7 linked regions of the Homo sapiens genome follow. The protein of the gene in region 6 interacts with the protein of the main gene of each other region in a pairwise test. Each region holds a gene or a part of one and is shown on either strand. Other genes may lie near its edges.

What was found.
Region 1: the proteins of EFHC2 (region 6) and LONRF1 interact in binary tests that used the Homo sapiens proteins (3 or more experiments, as listed by UniProt).
Region 2: the proteins of EFHC2 (region 6) and ZBTB16 interact in binary tests that used the Homo sapiens proteins (3 or more experiments, as listed by UniProt).
Region 3: the proteins of EFHC2 (region 6) and ZFHX3 interact in binary tests that used the Homo sapiens proteins (3 or more experiments, as listed by UniProt).
Region 4: the proteins of EFHC2 (region 6) and CCDC102B interact in binary tests that used the Homo sapiens proteins (3 or more experiments, as listed by UniProt).
Region 5: the proteins of EFHC2 (region 6) and NCDN interact in binary tests that used the Homo sapiens proteins (3 or more experiments, as listed by UniProt).
Region 7: the proteins of EFHC2 (region 6) and CPNE2 interact in binary tests that used the Homo sapiens proteins (3 or more experiments, as listed by UniProt).

Annotation. Positions count from the first base shown.
Region 1 is NC_000008.11:12,735,027-12,738,526, forward strand, and holds part of LONRF1 (LON peptidase N-terminal domain and RING finger protein 1), read right to left. Parts: intron 3,119-3,500; coding exon 2,969-3,118; intron 2,335-2,968; coding exon of another isoform or gene 2,246-2,334; intron 2,115-2,245; coding exon 1,874-2,114; intron 1,772-1,873; coding exon 1,675-1,771; intron 375-1,674; coding exon 260-374; intron 1-259.
Region 2 is NC_000011.10:114,237,711-114,241,210, reverse strand, and holds part of ZBTB16 (zinc finger and BTB domain-containing protein 16), read right to left. Parts: intron 1-3,500. UniProt on the Homo sapiens protein: Acts as a transcriptional repressor. Transcriptional repression may be mediated through recruitment of histone deacetylases to target promoters. May play a role in myeloid maturation and in the development and/or maintenance of other differentiated tissues.
Region 3 is NC_000016.10:72,954,129-72,957,628, forward strand, and holds part of ZFHX3 (zinc finger homeobox protein 3), read right to left. Parts: coding exon 3,299-3,500; intron 3,275-3,298; exon of another isoform or gene 3,119-3,274; coding exon of another isoform or gene 3,052-3,118; intron 1-3,051.
Region 4 is NC_000018.10:68,801,080-68,804,579, reverse strand, and holds part of CCDC102B (coiled-coil domain-containing protein 102B), read right to left. Parts: intron 1-3,500. UniProt on the Homo sapiens protein: During interphase, forms fibers at the proximal ends of centrioles to maintain centrosome cohesion. During mitosis, dissociates from the centrosome following phosphorylation to allow centrosome separation. Contributes to CROCC/rootletin filament formation.
Region 5 is NC_000001.11:35,564,039-35,567,279, reverse strand, and holds the end of NCDN (neurochondrin), read right to left. Parts: intron 2,054-3,241; coding exon 1,617-2,053; 3' UTR 501-1,616; downstream 1-500. UniProt on the Homo sapiens protein: Probably involved in signal transduction in the nervous system, via increasing cell surface localization of GRM5/mGluR5 and positively regulating its signaling. Required for the spatial learning process.
Region 6 is NC_000023.11:44,149,523-44,151,672, forward strand, and holds part of EFHC2 (EF-hand domain-containing family member C2), read right to left. Parts: intron 1-2,150. UniProt on the Homo sapiens protein: Microtubule inner protein (MIP) part of the dynein-decorated doublet microtubules (DMTs) in cilia axoneme, which is required for motile cilia beating.
Region 7 is NC_000016.10:57,109,583-57,113,082, reverse strand, and holds part of CPNE2 (copine-2), read right to left. Parts: intron 2,376-3,500; 5' UTR 2,341-2,375; coding exon 2,161-2,340; intron 1-2,160.

The sequences.
Region 1 (3,500 bases), on a different chromosome or scaffold from region 6:
CCATACCCACTTTTGTTTAAAAAAAAAAAATTAAGTACAAGGGGGTTGGTCTTCAGCATCTGTCTTCTTTCTCCCCATCCTCTTCAACCTCACTTTTCTCCAACATTAGCATATGGGTAATAAAACATTATCCTTGTTAGTCACTCAGAATATAGAATGTAATTCTGAACGTGATCATCACTATTTCTATGGCTGAACAGAAATTAAACCATGCTGCCAAACTTAAGACCAACAAACAGACACATATACAAATATTTACCTCTTTTAAGCTTTCTTTGCAAAGAGGACAATATGGTGCATGATCTAAACAACGCTCAAGACAATTCTTACAGAACGAATGTCCGCAAGGGGTTGTTACTGGCTCAAAAAACAACCTGAAATCAACCAAGATACATGTTAGTTTTCACATTAAACTATCCACTGAAAAGCTTGTACTACTTTAGAACCATAACACTAATCTCTATTTAAAGGAGGAAGAAGGAGGGCCCAGCAGGCAGGAGAGGAGAGAAAGGGCAGTGATAAGTGTAACCATACCCTCCAGAATGTTTTAAAATTCTCCATCAACAAAGGCCTCCTGCCAAAGGCCTAGAGCCAAGGGCCTAGAGCTGTCCTGACTAACGCAACAGCCCCTGGACACTATGGCTACTAATCACTTGAAATGTGGCTAGTACAAGCTGATATGTGCACTGAATGTAAAATACATACCAGATTTCAAAGACTTTCTGCAAAATAAATAATGTAAAATACATCATTAAAAATCATTAGTTAGCTTTTGTATAGCCTTTAGATTCCCATTTTAATATCAACTTAAAAATGATTCCTTAATAGGTTTATAAGACCCTTATGATATAAAACTCATAAAAAGAATGACCTAATAAATAATGCAGTTGAATCCTAATGTTAGACTTAATACTAAATGTATTATTCAAACATTACAGAACAACTAGTTTTACTTATTTTCTGAAACATGATAGTTTTGAATTTGCTAGAAATAGATTTAGAGGTACTTTAGGGACTGTTTAGTATAATCCCCTCACTTCACAGATGAAGAAACCAAGGCTCAGAATTAAGACTTGCTCAGGAATGTAACTGCTACCAGCCTAGTGTGACCAGCACTAGGCCTCCTGACCCCGTATGAATCTTTTGATCCTACACAATTCATGTAAATGAGAAATGTTATTTCAAAACATTTAGTCTTTTAGAATTATAGCATTCTGAATAATGGAAATCCTTATCCTTATGTTACTTTAAAAAGACTTTATGGTTAATATACATTAATAAGATAGGATCATATACATAAAATACTAATTAGAATTCATACCCAAATTTAAAACCATGGAGATAGGTAAGTTTCAAAAATAATATCATCTATAACTTTCTTAGTACTTTACAATTTCCCAGATTCCTTTTATACTGAAGCCATGTGATTCTCACAACAATGAGATGTAGGCCATGCAAAGCTTGATCCCACTTTCTAAATTAGGAAACCTGAGGTTCAGAGATTCAGTTATTTGCCCAAGGCATGAAAGGTAAACCCAGGACTAAAATTCATGTCTTTTGATTTTTATTCCAGCATTGTGTTACTTTACATTGTCTATTATTACCTTTATCTACACGGTATTTTATGTATACTAACATAAAATATTCATCTTCTATAAAGTTTTATATGCTTACCTCATGCAGAGAGAACACTCGAAATCTGAGACATCGATTAATTCTTCTGGAATATCACCATAAGCTAAGGAAAACATACAGACTTCATTGGGAGTTTCTATTAAAACAAAGACATGGGGTTTTCTTCCTTAGGAAAAACTTTAAAGACTATTCTGACTAAATAAATTTATTTTATATAAGTGTAGAGCAAAATTTTTACCTCCTTGTTTTTTCAGCTTATTTCTTCCATCTTCATTTACAATCACATCCTGTTCTAAAAGAGACAACTTTCTTTTCAGCAGAACACCTTTTTCTTGAACTGACAGAACAGGTTCTGAGGACACTCTTTTTAAACAGTCCTCTCTGGCAGGCATTTCTGTTGAATTTATAGACTGTGCTGACTGAGCACGGTTTAAGCTTCCTTTGACAGGCTCTGAAGTGACCTCTGGTATTTCTTCACTCTACAAAAATACAATAAACAAAGGTAACTGTATTTCTTTACTATCCTTTATTCCTCTCACCAAGAATCAAACTGAAATGAAATTTCAATGCCTTATAATGCTCATTTTAATGTTCATTTAATAGCACTAACTTGATTCCAACACTGTGACAAGTAAATGATTTTTGCCAGCACAGTTGGCCCTCCGTATCCACAGGCTCTGCATCCGTGGGTTCATCCAACTGGGGATAGAAAATATTCTAAAAAAAAGCCTGAACATATATCGACTTTTTTCTTGTCATTATTCCCTAGACAATACAGTATAACAACTATTTACATAGTATTTACATTGTATTAGGTATTATAAGTAACCTAGAGATGATTTAAGTATACAGGAGGATGTGCATAAGTTATATGCAAATACTGTGCCATTTTATTAATATATCAGGGACTTGAGCATCCTTGGATTTGCTATCTGTGAGAGGTCCTGGAACCAATCTCCCACAGATACAAGGGATGACTGTACTTACACAGCCCTAGAAATCAAGGTGACTTATGTTATAATGAGGTTTAAAAGTAGTTATGCTATAACACAGCTGTTACTACCCTGAGGAAACATAAATGCAATGTTCTATACATATTTTTAAAGAACTAAAAGTTTTCTTTCACGGGACCTAAAATTGTGATTCATTAGCAAATATTTTACATAAAAGATTTTAGTGTAAAGTAAAGGCTATGGAAAAAATTCTACTATGATAACTAACCAGGTTAAAAGTACTTAAGTAGGTGCTAGTACTTGAAACTAGGAAAGTGAAGCTCTTAACTCGTAAAGAAATGGATACGCTAAACTCATGATAACCTTGTCTCACCCCGTACCTGCTTTGGGCTAGGTTCATTGAGAGACTGAGACTCTTCCATCACTGAATGAAAATCAAAAGGTCTGTTTTTAGTACATGGTAATGAACTCCAGGAAGATTCCTTCAGGCCTTCTTTTAAGTTTTCAGGTAATAATAAATCACATAAAATCTGTAAGAGAAATATTAAAAGTAGTAGAAAATATAAAATATTTGGTTAAGGATAATTTTGTATAAATTTACCTAATAAAGAATATGTAGAAAGTTTGTAGCAGACATTTTTTTAATGAGCAGGAGGGGAACAAGGTAAGCAACACTGTAAGTTCAAAAGTCTTGCAAAATTAGGTGTGCCTCATGGGGTCAAATCACCCGCAAACAAATGATTCAAAACTTTGAAAGGAAAGCATGGGAGTAGTAAGACTCAGGATAAAGGCTGATCTTTCAACACAAAGACTATAAAAAGATCTTAAAAGACATATTAAATATTTATCTCTGAATCTTAGTGAGCCCTATGCTATCAAAATAGTTCATGGTTCACCTCAATGTATATTTAC
Region 2 (3,500 bases), on a different chromosome or scaffold from region 6:
CATGAATCTTAGGTCCATTCACTCAACAAGTATTATTTGATGCCTTCTACAAGCAAGGCTGTCTTTTTGGCACTGGGGATATAACCAAGGAAGAGCATGCAAAGTCCCTGCTCTCATGACCGACGTTACCCAGAACACCAGGTGAATGGCGGAATCCGGAAGATGGAATAGTGTCTGTGAACACTCTGGGCCAGGAGGAAACATGGCCGGTGGGAGGATCAGACAGAGGAATGGTGCAGTGCAGCTGGGGAAGAAGAGGAGGCTAAAGGGAAAGGCAAGGGCCAGGCCATGCAGGGTCTTGCAAACCACGTCAAGAGATTTAGTTCCATCCTAAACCCGATGGGCAACTGTCAAAGGATTGAAAGCTAGCGAGTGATGTGAGATTTTCATTTAATTCTAACTGGCTGTTCATCCCCAAAGTACCCCACACATACAGGCTGCCATTTTCTGTTTGTTACCAATCCCTTTCTGACACTGCTCTGGAGCCATGGCCGAAATTTCCAGCTGCAGCACCACAGGAGGAAGTATCTGACCTTGTGTCTGAGTCCTAACTGGCAGCTCAGTGCCCACCCTTTTGGGCTCTGTTTTCCTGAGCACAGGAGCTCCCCGGCAGGCCCATCTGTGTGTCTCTGTGCTGGTGCCTGGGCAATATCACCTGCACTTGGCCCCACACCGCTGTCCCCTGTGTGGGAAGGCACAAGCAGGAAACGTAAGTAGGCCTAGCATCTGTCAGTCCAGTCCAGAGTGGGTGGGGGGAGGGGGTAAAGCTTTGGCTGCTGGAAGCCATGGGCTGCTCAGCATGGAATCGGGAAGTGTCTGGTGGAAGGTAGGGGGAAGAGAAGGGATGGCACGAAGAACCTCCCTGCCTTCCTGGCCATCAATGGAGATAGCAAGTGAGAGGTCTGGTCCTCACCACCTCCGTCCCACTCATGGCTGGGTTAGGATGGACTAGTAGGCAGGCAAGGCCCACCTCTCACTGTCCCCCACACTTCTGTGCCCCTCACACCCACCCTGATATCCCTTCCCTTTGCAGACACTGAAGTCTAAGCACCTGGAGCCACGCCCCATCTCACCAGCAGTCAGGAAGGCTGAGCAGGGAAGGAGAAAAACAGCCAGCACAGGATTTTGCTCCTGGCCAACAAAAAGCAGGAAGGAAGGGGAGCGAATCTAGGCGTTATGCTAGGTACCTTATCTATGTTGTCAGTTCATTTAAAACTTGCAATCCTACAAGGCAGGCATTCTTATCCCCCTTTTTACCAGTGTAAAAGAGAGATTAAATAACTTGCCTAAGATCACACAGAAAGAGGCAGAGTTGGGATCTGAAAATATCTCGGTTTGTCTTTCAGAAACCACGGGGCTGGACTCAATGCTACCTCTGGAGCTGACTGCCCGCCTGTCTGGGCTTACCCTGGAAGAGGCCCAGTAAGGATGGTACAGAGGACTCCTGCCTCTAGTACAGCTCCAGCAATGGCTAGAGAACCCCTGGCCAGGAGTGGGCAGTAGCTGGGGCTGGGTCACAAGGCATAGCTCTCTGAGGCCTTCCAATCCCACTGGGAGCCACCAAGGTCTCTCAGAAATGCTGAGTAGTCTACTCAGCTTCACTTGCTGGAGGGAGACATAATGAGAGATGTATCTTTCTGGACAGAAGCAATGCCAAGAGTTGACAGTGAGTCTTCAATGTCCCTCCCTGCTTGGCCGACGTACACAGGAGGACAGTGCATCTGCAATGCGTTCTGTGCCCGGTGGCCCCCACTCCTTCAACTTGAGAGCCCCCAGCATCTACTCCCTCTCTGCCCTTAACCCCCACCCCACAGAGAGCCCAAATTAAGCCAGGTGTTCAAACAGCTACCTTAAATCAGTAGGGTTGAGTAGGCTTTGGAGGCCAGCCATGCCCTTTAAGAGCCAAGGCTTCTCCTTATGCATCCTCTGAGATCCCCGGCATGGAAGGAACCTGGGCAGAGGGAACATGAATGGCATTCCCAATAGGACATCTCAGCCTATACAGCCAGACCCACAGGTGCTCTGAGTGTCAATACACCCAGCAAGGCAGACTGCAGCACTCTGCCCCCTTGGCCTTTCCAAGGCCCCTCGATACTGCCCCACTATGCTGTCCCTACTTCTCAGGGTGGCCTGAACCCACTTCATGTCCATTCAGCCAACTCACTGAGCCACTACCAAGTACAGGCACTGTGCTAGGTGACCAGGGGCAGGCTAAGGCTGAGCAGAGAAACTGGGTCCCAGACTAGTGGGAGATGCTGAGTTAACAACCACCCAGAGGGTAAGGCAGGGCGACTCCAAGAGCTCCTGAGATTTTGAGTTAGGCTTTTAAAAGTTGAGTATCTGAGAAGCAAAGGACAAGAAGTTGGGACACATGTGCCAGGCTAAGGAGAGAGACACCACTGGCAAATGTCAGAGCAGATGGGGCCAAGGTCAGGCCCTGGGGATGGAGACAAGCTGGGAGGGTGATGGGAGTCAGATCAGAGGGCTGCATATGCCAGGCAGGACAGGTTGGACTTTATTCTACAGGCAATGCAGTGCCATGAAAGGACCGAGGGTTGCTATGATCCTAATGTCTGGGTCCCCCTCTGATTCCTTTTTTGAAATCCTAACCCCTAAGGTGATGGTATTAGGAAGTGGGGCCTGGGAGAGATAATTAGGTAATTAAAATGGAATGAGTGTCCTTGTAAAAGAGGGCCCAGAGAGCTAGCTAGCCCCTTCCACCACGTGAGGACACCGAGAAATCAGCAGTCTGCAACCAGGAGGAGGACCCTCACCAGAACCTGAACATGCTGGCACCCCAATCACAGACTTCCCAGCCTCCAGAGCTGTGAGAAATGCATGTCTGCTGTGTATAAGCCACCCAGTCCGTGGCAGTTTGTTATAGCAGCCTGACTTGACTAAGACGAGTGGTGCTAGCACGATCTGACCTGTGTTTGAAGCCAGTGACTCTGGGCACACATGGGGACCAACAGCAGCAGCAAGCGGTTAGAAGCAGCGAGAGGGCTGATGGGCCACTGGAGGAGGGTAGGGACCAGACCAGGGCAGAGGCTGCCAGGGCAAAGGGAGAGAGAAAATCCTAGAAAGGTGGGACAGCAAGGGAGGAGTGGCACGCAAAAAATCCCAGATGGCCAGTTCCACAACTGGCCAACAGGCTGGAAGTCATATGGTCACCAGCTGGAAAGGAAACACTATGATGTCCCTACAGTGGTCTCTCTCCCCTTCCTGGGACATTCCACAAGGTGCAGGGGTGCTCCTTGGTCACGTATCCACCAACCAAGGCTCCCAGGGGAAGAAAGGGGAGCCTCTGAGACTCAGCATCCACTTTCCCCATTTTTCTGCTTAGAAACTAACAGCTATGATGATAGAAAAGTATTTTTAAAAAAATGGAAAAGTGGGGGAGATGTGGATGAGACACAAGAAAAGCTATTGGTGCATGCGAGTTAAAAATCTAGAGACTAGATGTGAGTTATTAAACAATTTGCTGGCGTTTCAGCCTAGCT
Region 3 (3,500 bases), on a different chromosome or scaffold from region 6:
GGAGGCCAAGGTGGGCAGATCACCTGAGGTCAGGAGTTCAAGACCAGCCTGGCCAATGTGGTGAAATCCTGTCTCTACTGAACACACAAAAATTAGCTAGGCATGGTGGCGCATGCCTGTAATCCCAGCTACTCGGAAGGCAGAGGCAGAAGAATTGCTTGAACCCGGGAGGCAGGGGCTGCAGTGAGCCGAGACTGCGCTATTGCACTCCAGCCTGGGCGACAAGAGTGAAACTCCATCTCAAAAAAAAGAAATGAAAAAAAGAACTTGGCAGGTCCTTAGTCTTGAGCCACACTGGATACGTGGTCTTGGAGCAGGTCCCCATCTCTGGGTATGCACCTAACTCTAACACTGGAACTGACACCTTGACACGTGAGCCCACCCATCAGCACATCCTCAGGAAGGTGCATGGATTCAAAGGCACACTCTGGAATGAAAGGGAGACGAAGGGAGCTGCTAAACCTTGTGCAGGTGTCCAGGGGCTGGCTGGCTACTTGGGAAACACACAGCCACCCCGACAAGCAACCCCTTTCTTGGTGCTATGCTAAACTTCAGAGTCGAAAGGAAGGTTTGGGAGGATGTTCACAAGGCCTCAAATCTAATGTGCTGTCTACAAAGAGCAGCAGATCCGACTGTACTAGGCGAAGGAGCCCCAAGCCTTTCCTCAAAGGCTTCTGAAAAGAAGCAACCCCACAATCAGTGTCTGTTTGATGATACTAAAGAGGGCTCTGCCAAGGGAAGTATGAAAACAATCACCTTGTAAAGAGGAGTGTATTTCACAAAAACATTTTTCTCCCTGCAGAACTCAGTCACATCTAATAACACCTACAGCCATCTTATAAATGGACCATGGGGAAAAAAAACCAGTACAGCCACAGCTAGAACTGAAAGTTATGGCTGTTTTTATTTGCATAAGTTGGTTTCTCCTACTGAGGTCATACAACTCAAATTCCAAGTCTTTTGGACACTTCCTATGGCCCCCACACCCACTCGAGCTTCTGGCATAAAGGATTTGTGGCTCTCACACCTTCTCAGCAGTTTTCGCGGCCCAAGGAAGGCACAGGTTTCCAGGGACTCCCCGTGGCCGACAAGTAGTGACACTGGAAATTCAAGAGCCCTTTGTGACTGAGCTGGATAAATCCTTTGGGAGGAAGAGCTCCAGTCTAAGAAATATGGTGTGGCCCTTCCATGTGTGTCTACAACACAGGGCTTCATTCTTCTGCTCCTTCTGAATCTGCCGCAATGCCCAGGACAGTGCATGATGCCCCAAAGACTCACAGACACTTGGTGTGAAAGCGAAATATTTCTCTACTTCTCAATACAAGCCTTAGTTACCTGTTCTTAAGGTAATTAAAAAGCCTCACTTTAGGCTGGGCACAGTGGCTCATGCCTGTAATCCCAGCACTTTGGGAGGCCAAGGCGGGCAGATCACCTGAGGTCAAGGGTTTGAGACCAGCCTGGCCAAGATGGTGAAGCCCCATCTCTACTAAAAACACAAAATTAGCCAGGCATGGTGGCGGGTGCCTGTAATCCCAGCTACTTGGGAGGCTCTGGCAGGAGAATCGCTTGAACACAGGAGGTGGATGTTGCAGTGAGCCGAGACGGCACCACTCACTCCAGCCTGGGTGACAGAGCGAGACTCTGTCTCAAAAAAAAAAAAAAAAAAACCCTCACTTTGACCCAACATGAACCTACCCACGTTCCCACGTTCTGTCTTCATTCCACCTCCGTTATGTTTGATTTGCTCCAAGATCTACCTCCCGAGATTCTATGACTCCTTCTAATTCCTACTGGCTTAAAGAAAACCTTAGAGTACTCACTCCCATCTCCTGGTGTGCATGGTTCACCCTGGTGACAAATAAGACGACCAGTGCTTGTGCATCCACAATTAGCCAGTTGGTTTCAAATACCCTCAAATCATTTGGTAATAAAGGATCAACAGGCAAATATTTCAAAATGGAAAATGAGATTAAAGTACTAAGGATTAAAAACTGAATACATAGCAAGAAAAACCAATGGAATGCTTTGAAATATAACTCATCGGCAACAATTAGCACTCAAACACCACACAAATAAACACTTGCCAACTGCTGAGGCCTGGCCCTGCAGTCATCTAAGCCATCCTGGAAAAAAAGTCCTCACTGACACTCTGTTGCCAAGAACAACCTATTCCCATGTCAATAATGGCATATTGCTTAATTCAGGCCATTGTCACTGGTCCCACGAAGTCCATTAGCAGCGTCACGGGATGGGACGCAGGCAGGATCCTGTTTGAAGCATACCGGGTGGAGGCACGAGTGGCCCAACTATCAGAAGGTTCTCATGAAACCCATCTGTAGATTGTTTTGGCAGCAGCAGCTATCCTCAAAGTGGCTGTGGTTCGTTCTACGTAAAAACTCAAAGTTTTTAGCACCCAAATCCTACACTCTTGGTCCTATTCTAGATATTGTAAGCCAATTGGTAAGACTGGGAGCCTGAACAGAGCCAAATCAGCTTCTCTAAAGCAGAGGTCATTCTTCCTGGCAGCGAAGGCTCCGCTAACCAGGATCTAACTGCTATTAAAAGTTAACTTTCCTTGATGGACAATTTTTACAACTTACTCATTTTTCATCTCTCACACCCCTCACAACAGTGCCACTGGGGAATTTAATTCCCAATTAATTTCCAACTATTCTAATCACCAAGTACTCATCAAAAATAAGCAAAAAAAAAAACATCTCTTTCATTGAGGTCCTCATAAATATACAGAGAACTTTGAGAAGTCTATCTGGATGGTTCCCTAGCTCGGCACAGAATCAGCCTTTAGTTATCTGAATAACGTACACTGTGGTTCCGAATTCCTATTATTAAGATGATTGTCTCTACTTAAATCATTGAGGTAACTGTCCCTAGTCCTCTTATTGAAATGATTGCCTCAGCTACAGTTTCCTGTAAGTTTCAGTAAATATTCGATGAAACCCCAAAGTTTTAGGTGATTATAGTGATTTTTCAAATTGAAAGAAGAGACAGAGAAAGAGAGAATGGGAACAGAAAACTAGAGGAAACACTCACATTTTAATCCTGGCCCCACGTAGCCAGAGTACAAGCATATCTCTTTTGAATGCATAAACTCTTCCATATGTACACACACAGTTCAAGGGATTCTTGAGAATACTTGATTGTAAGACACTCCAGTTTACACAAAAACCACTCGAGAAGACCAGAGTCAACTGAATCCACAGGACTATCTCACCCTATTCACCATTCTCCCTGGTTAAACTCCTATCATGAAAACAGACAAACACGTAGTCATCCTCACCTAGAGCAGGCGTCATGGCGGCCATGGGCCCGGCGGGATCCAGCTGGAATCCGCTCATCATGAACTGGGCGTCCGAGGCAGCACTGTCCATCTTCAGGTTGGGCAGGTTCATGTTCTGGGCCAGGTAGTATTGGTAGAGCTCGGCCTCGGCGGGTGAGGGCAGGCTGCCGAGGCCCAGGTGGCGGTTGTGTTGGATCTGGGT
Region 4 (3,500 bases), on a different chromosome or scaffold from region 6:
CTCCTCCTACTCCCTGGTAGCTGCCCCACATTCTGTCTCAGCTTCACACCTCTGACTGCAAGCGCTCCAACACTGAGACTTCAGGCTGGGGTAATTGCTCTGGGTGAAGGCATCCAGGCCTTTGACTTCAAATTCATTAATTTTCTGAAATTTCCTAACAGACATATCTCTGGCCTGAGATGTTCCTTTATCTCTGGGATCTCACGTGTCCAGCTGCCCACTTAACATCACTAAGGATATCTAATCAGCATCTCAGATTTCACATGTTCAAAAACAAACACTTGAACTCCCCTCACATCTACACCTGCTCCTCCACAGTGTTCCCTGTGTCAATAAATGCACATTTCACTCTTCTAGGTTTACAGACCAAACTTAGGGGTTACCCTTGATTCCTTTGTCTCTTCATTGCACATCATTGTTGGAAACTCCATCAGTTCTGGCAGGAAAATATGAAATACAGCCTATGCAGAATTACAAAAACTCCATCTCTAATATCTCCTTCAAACCACCCTGTCTCTTGCCTGGAATACTGTATGGTATCTGGCCTCCCCACTTCTACCTTTTCCCTACTCCAGTATGTTCTCCACAGCACAGCCGAGTGGATGCTTTGAACACTCAACTTATGTTACAATATTTCTAGGATCCCAACATTCAAATGACTTCCCATCAAACTCAGAATAAAGTGGTTGTAGTTTATGATGTTGTCATGATCTAAACATAAACCATCCCTGAACTCTTCATCAGGACCCATGATTTCCCGACCTGAGGCTCCTACAGTTGGGGTATGAAGAGCCCTTTTAAAAGTAAAATAATATTAGGTTGGTGACCATGTAATTGTGATTTTTCCCATTGAAAGTAATGGCAAAAAATGCAATTACTTTTGCACCACCCTAATATCTTGAAGCTTAAGCTGGATTTACTTCCTCTTAAAGTAGCTTCTGCCTGTGCCTCCCTGCCTCGCTCATTCCCAGCAGCTGCCGGCCATCTGGCCATTCCTTGAAGGGACATTCTTCTGACTTAAGACTTTAGCACATGTGATTTCCTTTATACTTCTCTTCTGCCAAGATTCCTCGTGGTTAAGTATCTTACATCCTTCACCCTAACAGAAGGGACATTCCCTGGTTATTTCAAGAGTGTGTAAATATTCTATTCCCTTTTAGCCTGAATGTTCTTTTTTTCTTCCAGTACTTATCATGACTTAATATATATTTATATACTATGTATGGATTCTACTGCTTTACCAGCTAGACTATATGCTTAATGTAAAGAAAGGGGTTTTACTTTTTATTCACATCTCTATTTCCATTGCTAGAACAGTGTCTGAGACATGGTAGACATTTATTACTAAATGGACAAATCTAAAACAGAGTGACTTAGAACTATTCCTTTTCTTCCAAAAGGCAAGCATTACAAGTTCCACTAAATAAGTCAGTCTTCTCTAAAGAAGGTGGCTTTTAGATATTAAACGCTTATAGGCTTTTAAAATTAATAAAGAAACAGTTTTAAGTGAGGTTAACCCCAATCACACCACTTTAATTGCTATCAGCAACTTCATTCTTCCAAGTACTTAAATAATTCACAAATACACCTATGATGATTATCTGTATATACAAAAGATGAAGATTTACATTTATTTGGCCAGAAATACTTTTGAAACAGCGTGGAAAGTGGATAGGATATTTGGGAGAACAAAGCCATGTATCCCTTTCAGAGATAAGAGGACCAAGGGGTTTCAAAAGAATCAGCAGATGGGAGGTGGAGTTTGTCTTCTGCACTATTTCTACTTCTGATATCGTTTTGGATAAAGATCTATGCTTCTCGAATATGTCATTTATATTAATTCAGATAAACATCCTGCTCAATAATATGGAAGAAACTTATAGCCACAGAGGAAACAATGACGGCCAACCATAGACAATGAATGGACCATGTGAGGTCCAGGACCAGAGCTTTGCATTCAGTACCTATGCTTAGGCCCCAGCCTTCTGTGAGAAGCCTGTATCTGAGATAGCCCTCCTAGTTCTAATCCATGAATACTGGAATTTCTCCCATTAATCTACATTATCAGGTCAAATTTATTTAGTCCTGATACCAAAAACATAAAATATAAAAACATATCAAAAACATAAAAGCCAGCAAGTAAATTCATATAGCATTAACACCTTTAGAGGGCACTTGTAGCACGACATAATTGCAACATCCATGTTTTTAATCCATGCAATCATAAATTCTATAACTTAAGTTTCATTATTACAAAAAGAATGAAGAAGCCTGGGCAGTATCAAAAATAGGATGGCAGGGACTCTACGTAGTTGCTTTGACCCAACTCATTCCTACCATTGACAATACCTGTAAAGTGATTTCCAAACAAAGATAGAACAAAGCTCACCTGAACCCTCAGACAATCCCTGAGATTATTCTAGCTCCAAATTAGGAACAGGTTATAACCAGAACCTTCTAGAATTATATGAAACACCAATGGATTATGGCACTTCCACATCTTTCTCTTTTTTCCTGTGCTACCAAATGTTATAATCCCACTGAGCACCTTATAATTTTCATGTTTTATTGTGAAATACATTTTCTTCTCATCCAGAGAAGAAACGCTTGTTCAAAACCCTTCATGTCAAAAGAAGATAGAAAATTCATGAATATAGGCTGACTAATAAGACTATTTGATCTTTTGCAGAGGTCATAAATGTAATCTTTCACCTAATGCCTTCACAATCCTAAATTCACTAAGGGAGGAAAGGAAAGATTGTATGAAAGACTCTCAAAACTATTTCCAAATGAAAATGAGTCTAAAGTTGCTACAGGTTTTTCTTCATGCAACTATTGCCTCTTTACCTGTGTTATATTTCCAAACGTTTACTGCAGCTTAGAAACATATGCTCCCGAGTCAGTGACTAAAAATCTCACTTTTATTTTTGGAAACTTTAATTCTACAAATTTGAAACAGACACTATGATAAGATATATTTATAAATTCTTCAGTGAGCATATGTTTTTTTTCTCAATATTAAGGACACCTTTTTCTTTAGCTACTAAAAAAATCCTTCTATCAAAATTTTAACATCAAATATTTTAATATATTTATGACACACAACAGCAATTCTTTTAGGAAATATCATTAAATATAAATCAACTTGGATAATATTTAAGTATATAATAATGTTAACAGTCCTTTGCAAAGCTATGACTACAATTAAATGGCCTTGAGCACAACCTCCAATACAATATCTAGTTTTCCATTTTACAATCAAGGTCTCAAGCTCACAATCTCCATTGAGCATCTACAATTAGTCAGGGCACTGAGGATGGAGCACTAGTTATACAAAATGTCTTCTATAGAATATATTCTTAGAATGCAACCTAAACCTGTACAAAAATAAAATCTCAAGGTCAGTGACCAAATCTTTGCATTTCAACTATCCTCATCTGTTTTCGTGTACGGCAAAAAGATACTCCTTCAGTAAAGCCTACTTAATGATAGTATGATTC
Region 5 (3,241 bases), on a different chromosome or scaffold from region 6:
GCATGTTTTGTTGGATCAGTAGTTATTTAATTAAAGATAGTTACTGACATTCAAAAGTTGGGTTTCACATACAAATTAGGATTCCTGACTTCTTTAAAAATGGGAGGATATGGCAGGGCCACTTGGCAGCAACCCAGTGACATGGGGGCGGGGGTGCAGTGTTTCATCTGTACTTGAGAGCACCAGAGCCCCCACAAGGCCTGGCCACATCAACATGAGTTTGGCAATCTGCTGTACAAGTGAAAGATGTGGGCTGGGGAGTCGGATGGCCTGTGTGGAGTCCTGGCTCTGGCACTGACTAGCGGCAACACCTTGAGCCAATCACTTATCCATGCCAAAGTTGCTTTGTCTGTAAAATCAGAACCCTTCAGAGGATTCTTGGAAGGGCTGAATGAGGTCTCATGATGTGTTTAGCAGGGCATGTGTTCAGCACCTGGTAGCTGTGAACTGATGGAGCCTGGAAGGGAGAGAGCAGGTGCAGGGCAGACCACGCAGGAGGCTTCTCGTCACCAATGAACATTTATTGAGTGTCCACATGTGCACAGCTTTGAACTTGGCGATCACAGAACGCACTGGGGGAGGGAAGCAAGGGATCAAGAGTGTGTGTGTGTGTGTGTGTGTGTGTGTGTGTGTGTGTGTGTGTGTGTGTGGTCCCCCTGGGTTTATAAGAAAGGTAGTCCCTGCTGGAGCCGCCAGTCGCGTCTCTGCAGAGAGGAGTCATAGCAGGGGTGGGAGTTAAAGCCAGGCACCACGGTGGCAGTGGAGTGTAATCACTGGGGAAACATGCGGATTCTGGGGAAGTGTCCCTCCTGTTCCTGGCTCCAGCCAGGCCAGATGGCACCAGGGGGACAGGAATCAGATGCTCAGGTGTCCAAGCAGGGATAAGGACAGGCAAAATAAATAACCCCCCAACCCCCATCGTCACTCTGCTGCAACACGACACAAAGGTTTAAAGATCTGGGCCCAAAGACTCTGGGTCCCTTCAAGCAAGCTCAGGTGGAAGGAGGTTTCCCCACCCCCCACCAGGCCTGTCTGCCCCAGGTTGCCCTAGGATGGAGGCAGTTCAGACCCTGGGTCACTGAAGCTGATAGGAAGAACTGCGATATCAATGGCCTAAGCCTGCTGTCTGCCCAAGGGAGCCAAGGGCAAGAGCCAAAGGGCCAATTTAAAGGACGTGGACCTGGGGGGCCAGAGGAGGCACCACAGCCGAGGGGAGCCCACGCCCTGGCCGGCAGGGCACATGGGCTGAGGCAGTCTGCTCCTGCCAGCCCTGTCTTACCCTGGAGCCTCCCTCCTGCAGGGGAGCCAGACATCGGGCACAATGACACCTAGTGCCCCCCTCCCTGGGGGCTGCTCCAACCTTCCCCGGCCTGGCGGGGACAACCACGTTGATTTCCAAGCCGATCCCTGCCCCCATGGGGGCCTGAGGGGCGGAACGCAGTTCCTTACACTTGAGGGGTGGGCACCATGCCCTTGCCCTCAGAAAAGCCAGAAAGCTGGGGTGTTTTGGGGAGGAAGTCTGGGGAGGGGGGGGCCAGATTGGGGGCTTCAGGGAAGATGCCTCCTCCCTCCTTCCCTCTCTGCCCGCCCCTGGGTCTGTCCCCGGTGGACACCCCTCAGGGCTCTGACAGGCACTGCTCCAAGGCAGCCATGCGGTAGTGGCTGGCCGTCTCCTCGCCCGCCTGCAGCCTCATGGCCTCCCGGCACAGCCGGTTGGCCCGCGCCAGCTCCACCAGGACACCCTGATAGGCGGCCACCATCTCGGGCTTGACAGAGTTGGGGCTGACACTGCCTAGCAGCTGGAGCAGCTCCTGCGGCCAGCGGGAGCGCAGGGCAGCGGGGGCCAGCCAGGGCAGCAGAGGCACACAGCCGGTGAAGGCCTGCATGCCCAGGAACCAGAGCTCCTGCAGGTCGGCCCAGATGCCCTCATACTCAGGGGACAGGGCTAGCACTGCCTGGTCTGAGCCCGGGGTGGCCCGCGCCACGTGGGACTGTGATAGGAAGAGGATGGCAGCTGCGAAGAACCCTCGGGATGCTGGTGTTCCCTGAAGAGCTGCAAGGTAACGGAAGGAGTGGGGCATGAATCGGACAGGCCAGCTGCTGTGTCAGACCCTTCCCTAGTCCTCTGTGTAGACACATGCAGGAGCCAGGGCACAGCCTGGAATCAGACTGCCTGCGTTGAAACCCTGCCTTAGATGCTCACTGTGTGACCTTGGGTAATTAACTTTTCTGGGTCTGTTTCTTTACTTGTAAAATGGGCCAATAGTGCTCATCTTAGAAATTTGTTGTGAGAATTAAATGTGATCATCTTGGTACACTCAACCACCAAGACCTCTACCGGCACTGGAGGTGGGGGTGAGTCACAGGGTCAGATGGGAGAGAGAACCCCTCAGGGTTCTGGACACAGAGCTCAGACACAGGTTAAGGGAGTTGCACCATTTGATCCTTGGGCCAGAAGAGGGCGCCAGAGAGGAACATAAGCAAGTGACCCTGCTTTGCTTACTGGCTGTTCAAGGGGTGACCCTCACACTGCAGGTGCTCTCCAGGAAGCTGTCAACCTAACCTGGTGGTATTTGAGGGTGAGCCAGAACTGGGACCATGAAATTGGGGGCTGCAGAGATGCAGCCTGGGACTGAGAGTGCAGAGTGGGCTCCTGGTGTACAGGGATGTGCACCCCTTCCCATGACGGGGTACCCTGCTGGGAACCCCTCAAAAGGAACACAGAGGCAGTGGAAGGTACGGGCATGTTACGCCCTGTTCCCAGGCATCTGCTCAGCTCCTCCAACCTGACAGATGGGGCACAGGGAACAGGCAGGGACAGAGGGACCCAAGCAGACACCCACAGCCAAAGAGGGAGACACGGAGGGCTGCCAGGGGCTGGAGGGGACGTCCCTCCCCCTGCAAACAGCCAGAGTGAGGCAGAGCTAGGGAGAAGGTGTGCATAGAGGGACACCAAGTGCTGAAGGCTGTCACTGATGGGGGTGAGGTACCGAGCAGAGCAGAGAAAAACATCAATGGAAGGAAGTCAGGTTTCTGACTCAAGGCCTGGGTGGGGGCGGCTCCACCTTGAAAACACTGGATTCAGATTCCTCTGGCTGCCAGGGATTCCAGGTGCCTATGCCTGTGCCTGTGAGCAGGTCTGTACTTAACACCCACCAGACTTTGCCTTAAAAGTCTTCAGAAGAAAGAGAATGTTAGCATTTTGGGAAGAACGGTGGGGGTAGGGGATGGAGATACACTG
Region 6 (2,150 bases):
TATTTTTTTTAAAGACAGGGTATCACTTTGTTGCCCAGGCTGGAGTACACTGGCACAATCTCTGCTCACTGCAACCTCCAACTCCCGGGTTCAAGTGATTCTCATGCCTCAGCCTCCCGAGTAGCTGGGATTACAGGCACATGCCACCATGCCCGGCTAATTTTTGTATTTCTAGGAGACGGGTTTCGCCATATAGGCCGGACTGGTCTGGTCTCAAACTCCCGGCTTCAAGTTATATGTCCACCTCAGCCTCCCAAAGTGCTGGAATTACAGACGTGAACTGCTGCCTAAAGAACCCAATTTTTAAAATACAAACTGGTATCTATACTGGCTGATTGGTTACTGTTTCTTCAGTAAACAATGAAAAGAACACTGGATCACTCACAGTATGATCTTGCAGATAAGCCACTTTATTTGTGTGTGTGTGTGTACACATATACACACACAGATGCACATTTTATATAATACATAAATACGTGTATATACACACACACAAACTTTTTGCATATGCCTCAATGGTTAATTAATATCAACAGGAGGCAAAGTTCATACATATGGTTGCTTATATTTCTACTTTCAAGGTTAAAATATGACTGTCAAGGTTAATTGTTGTATATAAGAGGTTCTATATCTTTACTAGTGTTACATTAGTATCCAGAATCACAAGGTGTCACAGAAACATAGGTAAAGGCTCAATAATTTGATGTGATGGAATTTTGGAAGCAAGCTGAATAAGTGGTGATTCAGTTGCACCTTATGGGATGAAAAACAGTTCAGCAGAGGGTTTAGGGTTGTGAAGGGTATTCCAGGCATAGGGACCAGCGTAAGCAAAGGCCTGGAGATCTAAAATCTATTTTCAAGAAAGGGTGAGTAGCCCAGTGTGGTTTGCGGCACATGGTGCAAAGTGGCAAGAGAGATGGTTAGAAGGAGAAGCTGGGGCCAAACTTCTGGCCTTCTGTGCTAGTTTATACTTGAGGCTGTGGTTAGGGGAAGTCACTGGTAGGTCTTGGCCAGGGAAATGACAGAAATCTGATTAGAAACTGATTAGCTAACTTGCTGGATGTACAGAGAATGACATGAAGTAAGAAAATCAATCTGGAGGTGAGTACTATAATACCGCAGAAAAATGACTGTGCCATAACCAGGGTGGCTGAAGCGGGCATGGAGGACAGGAGCTACTCTGAGAGATGCTGCTGCAGGAGAACATGAAATAGCTAGAAGGGGATCAACTTGAAATGGTGACAAAAGAAAGGTGTAGTGCTATGGGTTGAGTTGTGTCCTCATGCAAAAGAGTTATGTGAAGTCCTAATCCCTAGTACCTCAGAATGTGACCTTGTTTGGAAATAGGGTTTTTGCAGATGTAATTAGGTAAATTAAGATGAGCAAAATGAGATCATACCGGAGTAGGGTGGGCCCCTAATCCAATATGACTGGCCTCCCTATAAAAAGACAGCCAGGTAAAGACAGAGACACACAGGGGGAACACCAGGTGACCATAGAGGCAGAGATTAGAGGTTTGCAGCTGCAAACCAAGGAACGCCAAAGATTGCCAGAAAACCATCAAAGTCTAGGAAGAGGCAGGGAAGGATTCCCACACAGGTTTCAGAGAAAGTATGGCCCTGCTGACACCTAGATTTTGAACTGCTAGCCTCCAGAACTGTGGAAGAATAAATTTCTATTGTTTTAAGCAACTCAGTCTGTGGTACTTTGTGAGGGCATCACTAGGAAACTAATACAGGTAAGGATGGTTCTAAGAATTCTAAATTCAGTAATAGTTGACAGTGTCTGTTATTAGTTTCCTGGGGCTGCCGTAACAAAGTACCACAAAGTAAGTGGCTTAAAGCAACAGAAACTTATTCTTTCACAGTTCAGAAGGCCAGAAGTCCAAAACCAAGGTGTTGGCAGCGTTGGATCTTTCTGGAGGCTCTAAGGAAGAATTTATTCCATGCCTCTCTCCTGGCTTCTGGTGGTGGCTGGCAGTCATTCCTTGGCTTGTAAGCACATCACTCCAACGTCTGCCTCCAACTTCACATGGTGTTCTCTGTGTATACCAATATGTCTTCACGCAGCTTTCTTATAAAGTCACCAATCAATGCATTTAGGGTCCACTCTAATCCAGCATAACTTCATTTTAATTAATTATATCTGCA
Region 7 (3,500 bases), on a different chromosome or scaffold from region 6:
CTTGTGGAGCAGGGCCGAGATTTGAAACCGAGGTCTGACTCTGCTACCCACACTCTTAATTCTTTGGCCCTGGCTCCCTACCCAGGTGCCAGGGTAAGAGCTCAGGCCCTGCCCCTGCCTGGGTAAGAGATGGAGGACAAGGCCCTTTCCCCATCTGGGCCTCCGTTTCCACCTCTGTAAAGGGAAAGGATTTGACTACTTGCGGTTTTCACTTTTTATTTTGGGAAAACCCTTTTTCAAACCATGTTTTACATGGAAACTGAGAGAGGAAACAGAAAGCAGGGAGGATTCTTCGGGGGAGGTGGGGTCAGGGACTCCCCACGGGAGCGCGGGGAGATATTTGTATCTTGTATAGAATCCTGACACTGTGCAGCCCAACACCCCACCTACTGTGGATACCAAAGCCTGGCTGAGGACAGGGCCTGGTACTGTGGGTCAGTGGTGGCACTGGGACAGGAAACCCGCCTCCTGGCCTCTGGATGCTGAGGCCCCAAACCGCGGAGTCTGGGTGACAGTCTATTTTGGGGCCCAGGCTGTGTTGACTTTTCCTCCCACCCAGTCCATTTCCAAGGGCTGGAGCAGCAGGGACGGAGGAGGTCTTGGCCCTGGGCTATTTTTAGCCAGGGTGGCTGGCCTGGGTGGGGGCAGAGGTTGTCAGGGAGGGTGGGGGATTGTGCTATGAGTCAGGGGGATACCACTCCCTCGGGGCACTCAAGGGTTCTAGAGACCTGGTGGAAGGGAACTGTGCCCCCAGACATGCCTCTCACAGGCTTGTGGCTCCCCCAGGAGTCCTCAGCTGGCCCCATGTCCCACCTCCCACTTACAGTTGTACCATCAACAAGCTGGGTGACACAAAAAAGTCCCTACCCACTCTGGGGCCCCTGTTTCCCCCTCTGTAAAGTGGGTCAACAATCCCACACCGTTTTCTTGGCATCACAAGAAGGAGCCAACATCCATGGGAACTCTTTGTAAACCACAGTATGTTCAGGTGAACTCCCACCGTGGCCTAGTTAAATATCCATTAAAAAATACACACATATTTTGGGAAATATACATGCATATAAAGCCATCTGGAAGGCTGGATACCAAACGGTTAACAGTGGTTCTCTATGACAGGTGGGTTCCTAACAATTTTGATTTTCTCCTTTAGGTTTATCTGGATTCTCTACATTTACTCCAATAGTTTCCTTTTGCAAAAGCAAAGCAAGTTTTAAAACCTGAAGGTCTGAACAGCTTAGGTTTCTCAACATCCTTCCTCAAGCTGCAACTCTTTCCAACCTTCAAGCCAAAGTCTTCCAGCTCAGAAGTCCTTGCCTGGGGCACCATTAATATCCCCAGATCTGGGGCCTTCCAAGGGAGTCAGCAGAAAAAAAATATATAATAATTTCACAGATGAGGAGACAGGTTCAGAAAGGGACAGCTACTTGCTTAAGGCCACACAGCAGGGAGTAGCATCACTGGGCCTTGGACCAGCTCCCAAAGCCTGAGCTCACTGTTTCTCTGTTTCTTACTGACCATGTGTTCATTTAGAAAGGTTATTTAAAAGCGGAAGCAAACATTTCATAAAACTATAAAATGTTAACTATATATAACAATTTATAACAAGATGGGGCGTGGTGGTTCATGCCTGTAATCCCAGCACTTTGGGAAGTGGAGGCAGGTGGATTGCTTGAGGTCAGGAGTTCAGGACCAGCCTCGCCAACATGGCGAAAACCCATGTCTCTACTAAAAATACAAAAATTAGCTGGGCGTGGGGTGCACACCTGTAGCCCCAGCTAATCGGGAGGCTGAGGCAGGAGAATTGCTTGAGCCTGGGAGGCAGAGGTTGCAGTGAGCTGAGATCTCACCACTGCACTCCAGCCTGGGGGACAGAGAGATTCCGTCTCAAAAAAAAAAAAAAGATATCAAATAATCACTATAAATCATATAAATATAAATCTATAGATTTTAATTGTAATAATTTAAACACAAAGTAATATTTTAAATATATTTAAAATAAAATTTCATTTTAAGAGTAACAATTTACCAAGTAATCCCCTGCCACCAGCCCACACTCCAACTACTTCCATCAGACATCCTGGATCCCAGTCCTGGGAGACTCCCCCTCCCCAGCAGCCTAGCCACCCCCTTACCCACCGCAGACACACGGAAGAGCCTCACCTCGATCCATCTGCCATTGTTCTCTGTAAAGAGGACACAGAAGGGGTCGGACTTGGAGGTAACATCCCGGTCCAGTAGGTTCTGGCCACTCACTGACAGCTCCACCTTGCACACGCAATACTGGGGGCCCATGGGGGCTGCCCCCGCTGCTGGGGCACCCCCACTGGGTATGTGGGCCATGGGAGCCGGTGGCGGTGGCAGGAGTTCCTGGCAGTCTAGGGGAACAGAAGTGAGGGTCAGAGAGTGGACAGACACCTGCTATGCTGCCCCACCATAGGGAGGCATTACCACCTGGCCTTTAAGAGGTGAGTGGAGAGATGGAAGGCAAATTGAGGCGGGTTGTCAAATAACATAGGCAAAGGTTTGAAGAAAGAAGAATGCAAGGAAATGCATGAAAAGGGAGTCTCAGCTGAGCGCAGTGGCTCACGCCTATAATCTCAGCACTTGGGGAGGTCAAGTGCCTGGAAGCCCGGAGTTCAAGACCAGCCTGGCAACAAGGAGGATCCTGTCTCTGCAAAAAATATTTAAAAATCAGCTAGACATGGTGGTGCGTGCCTGTGGTCCCAGCTACTTGGGAGGCTGAGGCAGGAGGATTGCTTGAGGCCAGTAGTTCAAGGTTGCAGTGAGCCGTGATTGCACGTCTCTGCACTCCAGCCTAGGCGACAGAATGATACCATCTCAAAAAAAAAAAAAAAAAAGAAAAGAAAAGAAAAAAGAGTCTCTGTCTCTGGTAGCTGTGTTAAATTTGTCTTTGAAGTTTTTCTCTGCTGTGGTCAGTCTTCACCTGTAAGGATGCACAGCTCCTTGTGTGTTGCTCCGTCACATGAGCAACAAATCACAGTGGACATGGGTGTCTCAGATACTAATTGTGCCAGGAAAACCTGGGCTTCTCCTGAGCAACTAGCATGTTGGCATCTTGTGGCCACAGTGGAGCTGACAACTGCTCAGGCTTCTCTCCTTCCTACTTTGGCCACTAGGAAGCTCACTTCTGGTAACGTCAGAGGCGTTTAAACCAGAGCAACTCCATCTTGAATAGGAACTGGGTAAAATAAGGCTGAAACCTACTGGGCTGCATTCCTAGATGGTTAGGCATTCTGGGTCACAGGATGAGATAGGAGGTCAGCACAAGATACAGGGCATAAAGACCTTGCTGATAAAACAGGCTGCAGTAAAGAAGCCAGCACCAAAACCAAGACGGCCATGAGAGTGACCTCTGGTCGTCCTCACTGCTACACTTCCACCAGGGCCATGACAGTTTACAAATGCCATGGCAACATCAGGAAGTGACCCTATATGGTCTAAAAAGGGGAGGCATGAATAATCTGCCACTTGTTTAGTAT